Homo sapiens: one gene and its partner. The protein of the gene in region 1 purifies or fractionates together with the protein of each later gene. This does not show direct contact. Each region holds a gene or a part of one and is shown on either strand. Other genes may lie near its edges.

What was found. The genes of interacting proteins can lie anywhere in the genome.
Region 2: the proteins of RAB7B (region 1) and SDHB purify together in Homo sapiens (affinity purification with mass spectrometry; one large-scale study listed by BioGRID and IntAct). This does not show direct contact.

What each region holds. Positions count from the first base shown.
Region 1 is NC_000001.11:205,993,104-205,997,336, forward strand, and holds part of RAB7B (ras-related protein Rab-7b), read right to left. Parts: intron 1,355-4,233; exon of another isoform or gene 1,049-1,354; 5' UTR 1,033-1,048; coding exon 980-1,032; intron 444-979; coding exon 317-443; intron 1-316. UniProt on the Homo sapiens protein: Controls vesicular trafficking from endosomes to the trans-Golgi network (TGN). Acts as a negative regulator of TLR9 signaling and can suppress TLR9-triggered TNFA, IL6, and IFNB production in macrophages by promoting TLR9 lysosomal degradation.
Region 2 is NC_000001.11:17,020,271-17,023,408, reverse strand, and holds part of SDHB (succinate dehydrogenase [ubiquinone] iron-sulfur subunit, mitochondrial isoform 1 precursor), read left to right. Parts: intron 1-678; coding exon 679-801; intron 802-3,138. UniProt on the Homo sapiens protein: Iron-sulfur protein (IP) subunit of the succinate dehydrogenase complex (mitochondrial respiratory chain complex II), responsible for transferring electrons from succinate to ubiquinone (coenzyme Q).

The DNA.
Region 1 (4,233 bases):
TTTTTTTTTCTATAAATAACAGATAGTAAATATTTTAGGCTTTGCAGGTCATTCTGTCTCTATATGCCAATTATTACTCAACTCTGCCATTGTACTGCATAACTTGATAAGCTAACCAATGGTTATGGCTGTGCCCCAGTGAAGTCTTATTTACAAAAATAGGAGGTGGATCAGATTTGGCCCATGAGCTGAAGTTTGCTCATCTCTGCTCTAGACCATTCTAGCTCTGGTTCACATTGCTACATGAGTGGCTGTCCGGGCTTGGGGGGGATTTTCAGTGTATGTATGTTGAAGAGGGAAAAGGAGGGCTGCTCACCTGTAACTTCAAAGTTGTGTCACCCAATATGATAATCTTGGAGAGGATGCTGGCCCCCAGTGTGGTCTGGTATTCCTCATAAAACGTCTTGTGCACATATTGGTGAAGGAGGGAGGTCTTTCCCACACTGAGGAAAATTCCAGACACATGTGAACACACACATGCAAACACACATGCACATGCTTCCCTACCATTCTCAGAATCTTCCCAGGCCCCTCTTGCCACTGTCTCTCCCTGAGATTCTGAATTTCAAATTTCTGTGGTCCATGGACCACACTTTGAATAGCAAGGGAGTAGGAAATGGTTTCTAGAAGTAGAAGCCAATCAAAGTGAGCAGAGTAGTCTGGAGACGGTGGAATATCTCACAGTGGTGGTCAGGTTTTTTCTGTGTGTGTAGGACATGGGAGGACAGATAGATGCTAAATGGCTTGCCTAATTCACACAGCTGGTTACTGCAGAGTCACTGCAGATCTAGGACTGGAAACCATCTGTTTACATGCAGCTTCTTTGTCCCAACTAAGCTTCTTTTCTGGGGATGGGATACAGTTGCTGGTGTCACCCTGAATCAGAAAGGGACCTATGGGAGATGGGAACACATCAGGAGGTCTCACTGTCCTTGGGTGAGGGGCTGCTTCCCAACTCCCAGAGCTGAGCTTGGCTTACCCAATGGCTCCGACGATAATGAGTTTCAGGTCCACCTTCTTCCGGGGATTCATGGAAGGGCTTCAGAGCCTGTAAGGAAACAGAGGTCATCCACATGCTAGCCAATGTTCCTTGTGGCCATTGTCACTGAGTGTGGCCTCTGCTTTCCCCTTTCCAATGGGCAAGTTACTGCCCTGGGCCCGGGACTGGGTGGGGTTCTCCGAAGGAGGCACGTAATTCAGCAATCTTCATATATCTTCTCCCTCACTTTCCCTGGGGGCCTCCCCAAAGCTGGAAGGGTGGTGACTCTCCAGGACAGGCAAATCTCTCATCCCTCAGCTCTACCAACCCTGCTCTTGGAGGCAGCCTGGAGTGCCAAGAAGGCAGGACAGGATTAAACAGAGGCCTCGCAGACAGCCCAGCCTGGAGCCAGGGATGGAGGGGCATGCAGGAAGAAGAGATGGGGGTGGGCAGGACAAGGGTTCCATTGTCACGACTGCCCAGAGGCTTTGGATGGAAGAGTGCCCCTCCCCCAGCCCGAGGTCTAGCTGCAACTGCAGAATCAAAAGGCTCCTCTCTAATGCAGCTGGCGGGGGTGTAATTCATACATGTTTCTGGAAAGCTATTGGCAGCAAGTGTTGAGAGCCTTAAAAATGTTCCTGCCCTCCACTTCTAGGAATTTGTCCTAAAGAAATTATCCGAAATGTGGGTAAAGACTCTTGTCCAAGAATGTTCTTCACTGTACTGTTTATAAACATCCAACACTAAAGCAGTGGTTAAATCATAGCACACAATGAATTATTAAGCAGTCATTAAATGGAGTTTTTGAGAATATTACAATAATATGGGAAAATGCTCATGCCCTAGGATCTAAATAGGATCCTAGGATCCCTTAAGATCTAAATAGAAAACAGAAGATGGTACATTCTCAGCAAACTATTGCAAGGAACAAAAACCAAACACTGCATGTTCTCACTCATAGATCGTAATTGAACAGTGAGAACACTTGGACACAGGAAGGGGAACATCACACACCGGGGCCTGTCACGGGGTGGGGGCAGGGGGTGGGATAGCATTAGGAGATATACCTAATGTAAATGATGAGTTAATGGGTGCAGCACAACAACATGGTGCATGTGTACATATGTAATAAACCTGCATGTTGTGCACATGTACCCTAGAACTTAAAGTATAATAATAACTTAAAAAAAAACAACAGAAGATGGTAAACTGTACACACAATACCACCCAACACTTAAATGAGTTCCCACTTGTATAGAAAAACGCCTGGAAGGAAATATATTAAAAATTCCAGCAATTCCACTACAGGATATATAGACAAAGGAAATGAAATCAGTATGTTGAAGAGATGTCTACACTCCCAGGTTCACTGCAGCTTTGTTCACAGTAGCCAAGATATGGAATCAACCTAAGTGTCCATCAATGGATGAATGGGTAAAGAAAATCGGTACATGTACACAACGGATACTGTTCAGCTTTAAAAAAAAACTTACAATTTATGACAACATGGGTAAACCTGGAGGACCTTATGTTAAGTGAAATAACCCAGGCAAAGAGACAAATACCATATGATCTCACTTATATGTGGAATCTAAAAAAATTGAACTCGTAGAAGTAGAGAATAGAATGGTGGTTACCAGGAGCTGGGCTGGGTGGGCAGTTGGGGAGATGTTAGAGGATAAAAAATTTCAGTTAGCTAGGAGTAAATTCAAGAGATATATTATACAGCATGGTGACTATAGTTAACAACAATGTATTGTATTCTTGAAAATTCCTAATAGAGTTTATATTAAGTGTTCTCACTACTAAAAAATAAGCATGTGAGGTAATGCAGATGTTAATTACCTCAATTTAGCCATTCCACAATGTGTGCATATTTCAAAACAACAGGTTGTACATGGTAAGTGTGTACAATTTTTATCTGTCAATTAAAAAATGTAAGTTATTCTGGTTGGTAGGAAATTACATTATTTTAATTTTTTTCTCTATGCTTTTTAATACATTCTTTTTTTTTTTTACAATAAATATGTCTTGTTCCTATAAGAGAAATGTAAATGTATAGTGTGTGTGTGTGTGTGTGTGTGTGTGTGTGTGTGTGTGTTTAACAAGGTAAAGCAAAACTGTTGTAGGATACATGCTTAACTGGCCCTTTGTTTCACCCATATATGCACATATGCATATGCACTATCCCCAATTCCTGGTTCTTTTGTCTTTGGATGCACTAAGCATGCTGAGTAAACCTTGACTTGACTCTGCTCAGATGAGGTGTCAAAAGTTGGTCAGCTTGTGTTTCCCCTGCTACTTGGAAAAAGCTGTAAATAGGACATCCTGAGGCCTTGGTTCTGGTTCTCACTTTGTGACCTTGGGCCAGTTACTTCCCCTCTCTGAGTCTTGGCTTTCCAACTGGAGAATGAGCCAGCTGAGCCCCAAAGACTCAAGATGCCTTCTTGGTGAAAAATGCTTTATCTGCTGGAGCTGGACCTCATTGGCCATGAGAGCTGTGCTTGGGACACAAAGTTAAAATGGGAAGCCCCCAGAGATTTAGGATTGTTAGTGTCCCCTTCATGAACCATGTCATGGACTGTATTCATCTGTTCTCATGCTATAAAGAACTGCCTGAGACTGGGTAATTTATGAAGGAAAGAGGTTTAATTGGTTCCGCATGGCTGGGGAGGCCTCAGGAAACTTACAGTCATGGGTGGATGGGGAAGTAAACACATCCTTCTTTACATGGCAGCAGGGGAGAGAAGTGTAGAGCAAAGTGAGGAAAAGCCCCTTATAAAACCATCAGATCTTCTGAGAACTCACTCACTATTATAAGAACAGCATGGGGAAACCACTCCCATGATCTAATCACCTCCCACAAGGTCTCTTCCCCAACACATGGGAATTACAATTCAGATTACAATTCAAGATGAGATTTTGGGTGGGGACACAGCCAAACCATATCATAGACCAAAGGCGATTTGAAGCTCTACTCAGAGCTGTTTGTCCTAGGACCTGGAGTTGGTGGCACTGGAACTTCTGCTCTAACCCAGGAATGCTGGGTTGGCATGGTGAGAAATGGGTCTTCTTGATGGTTCACACGTTCATGCAGCAAATGCCTACATGCCTACCACATGCAAAGCCTTGCACTAGACACTGGGAACAGCACAGAGATGGAGCAAATAGGAACCCACCACACGGAGTCACCAAGGAAGAAAGGACAGTGGCTGAGTGATGACACCAGAGAGAAAGTACACAGCACCGCAGGA
Region 2 (3,138 bases), about 190 Mb from region 1:
TTCCCACAAAAAGAGAAGTTACAGGTTTGTGTGACCACATGAGCAATATTGATTCCCAGCCATGTGAAGATTGGATAATGAAGTACACTCATACTTGTCACTTTTGCCAGCTGCTCCGAGTTGGGGATGTAGAGGTCCTCTAAGTAACACTGCTAGAGCAGGCCTATGGTCATGTGATTAACTCGTTTCAGCCTGCTGATCTCAGGCTGCTGAGAGCGCTGTGTAAGTTCAAAGAATCATTAAGTGGGACAAATACTATCTGTAGACAGGTCTGTTAAATCATTCCTTTACTCAGAGACAGCAAGTCCAGCATGGGTAGGTGCCATGAAGACAGATAAGAGTTATATGATACAGTCCCTGCCTTCACCAAATTATAAGCTGGGTAGGAAGCTATTGAGCAATGTGAAATAATTAGGAGATGATACCCAGTGTGTATAATTAAGCACCCGGGTACCAGGTGCAGTATGGATCAAAGGTTTGCAGGGACCATTAATCAAGTGAAGCTACAAGTGTTGGGAACCTTTCCTTGAAAGATGGACAAGAATTAAAGAGTATGGAGATGAGGCATCTAAGCTGAGTGAATTCCCTTTCCTCTGCACTCCCAGAGCTTTGAGTTGAGCCAGGGTGCCGCTCTGGCCTGTTGATTGGCAGCTCAGCTAATCATCCCTGGTTTTCCAGGCCTATCGCTGGATGATTGACTCCAGAGATGACTTCACAGAGGAGCGCCTGGCCAAGCTGCAGGACCCATTCTCTCTATACCGCTGCCACACCATCATGAACTGCACAAGGACCTGTCCTAAGGTACGTGGGGCTGGTGACCCTCAGCTCTGCCTCAGAGCTGACACGCCAGAAGTAGCATGTGCTCACAAAGAGGTGATTGGCAGAGAGCAACCCTAGTCATTTGAGAAGGAAAGGGACCAGCATATGCCTGTCCTTTCAGTGTGAGCCTAGGGGCTAGTTTGGCTCTTAGTTGCAAGGAGTAGACTGACTCGGGCCACCTCAGGAGCAGGCTTTATTTGTAGGCTACACAGGGACATTGTGGGAGTTAAGGATGCACAGGAACCCATGAGCAGGTACCTGCGTTCAACCTTCCCAGGAAACAGAAAGCGAAAGCCGTTGGAACGTGGGCAGCTGTGAGGACTTCATTTCTTCTCCATCTTTCTCGCGATGTCAGCTGCTAATCTGCTCTGCTCTCTAGCAGCCTGTTCTTTCCTTCGGCTCTGTGGAGGTTTTCTCTGACTCAAAGCTCTGGCTTTCGTTCCTCTTCCTGCTCGCATTTGCTGCTGCTTTTGGCTCACTCTGGCCTGGATTTTGCCTCCCAGCACACTTCCAGCTTCAGCCACCCGCCTGCCTCCCAGCACTTCTCAGCACAGTTTCCTGAGAGGGTGTCGCATTGGCCCAGCTCACCTTCTCATGCCTGCACATCAGAGGCCACAGCTGGCTACAGACCGGCTGCCCTTTGGCCAGGTTCTGTCTCAGTCTGTTTTGTGGTACTATCACAGAATTTCAGACTGGGTAATTTTATAAAGAAGTTTATTTGACGCACAGCTCTAGAGGCTGGCGCCAGCATCTAACAAGAACCTTCGTGCTGTATTACCCCATGGCAAAAGGCAGAAGGGCAAGAGAAAGGGAGCCCAAGCTCAGCCTTTTTTTTTTTTGGAGACAGAGTTTCGCTCTTGTTGCCCAGGCTGGAGTGCAATGGCACGATCGATCTCAGCTCACCACAACCTCCGCCTCCCAGGTTCAAGTGATTCTCCTGCATTCGCCTCCCGAGTAGCTGGGATTACAGGCAGGCACCACTCATGCCTGGCTAATTTTGTATTTTTAGTAGAGATAGGGTTTCTCTATGTTGGTCAGGCTGGTCTCGAACTCCCGACCTCAGGTGATCCACCCACCTTGGCCTCCCAAAGTGCTGGGATTACAGGCGTGAGCCACCGCGACCGGCCCCTCTCATCTGTTTTTTTTAAAAGACAGGGTCTCACTGTGTTGCCCAGGCTGGGGTGCAGTGGCGCAATCATAGCTCACTGCAGCCTGGAACTGCTGGCCTTAAGTGATCCTCCTACCTCCTGAGTAGCTGGGACTACAGGCACACACCACCACACCTGACTAATCCAAACTCATCCTTTTATCAGGAACTTACTCCTATGATAATGGCAATCCATTTGTGAGGGCAGAGCCTTCATAATCTAATCACTTCTTAAAGGTCCCACCTCTCAATACTGTTGCATTGGGGATTAGGTTTTCAACACATGAGCTTTTGGGGACACATTCAAACCATAGCAGGTGTCAGCCCTGGTCCAGTCAGCCTTGCCCAGTGGGCAGGGAAGGGCTAGGGCTGTGTGGTTCAGAACACGGCTGCCCTCCGAGCAAAGACTGTGGGTGATTTCACTCAAAAGTTGCAGTGAGTCAGTGGGCGGCAAGGTGGAAAACTGTAGGGTGGCCAGTTAGCCGTAAAAAAAGATCACACTGTGTGTTTGAAAACATGAAATCCAAGCTGTAGAATTCACTTATTTTTTGCCTGGAAACCCTCTGTGTTTCCAGTGGCCTCGCTGGGGGAGCCCACAGGCTTCAGCTCCCTATTGCCTGGGCTTCCATCTGGGTCCTGTCCCCAGGACTGTGGTTTACCATGATTGTGCCTGTGAATAGCTACTGACCTCTGAGGCAAGTTATGCTATAAAAGTGCTTGGAACAGTGCCTGGCACATAGTAAGCACCCAATAAATGTCACCTTATGTTATTTTTTAAAAAAACATGAGTACTGGGCTTGTTTGAGACAGAGATAGCATCTTCAGTGGTGGGGCCTGGCTGTGTGTTTCTTCAGAAGCTCTGCGAGTGACTCTAAGGTGCATTCCTGGTCACAAACCTGTGCATGGAGGGGATGGGTGCAGCAGACAACTGAGACAGCCAAGAACAGGTTCTCTGTGCCTTGCCCTCCCTTCTGTAAAACAGGGCTGGAAGTTGGGACTGAGACATAGACATAGGCCGATCATGAAACTGGAAGGGACTTGAAAACCATCAAGTTTAATCCCCTTATACAGATGGGGAAATTGAGCCCCAGGTGGGGAGGGGAGTGACTCGCCCCAGATCACTGTCAGGTCAGTGGGAAGGTAGGACTAGAGTTAGGCCGTCTGCCTCCCCA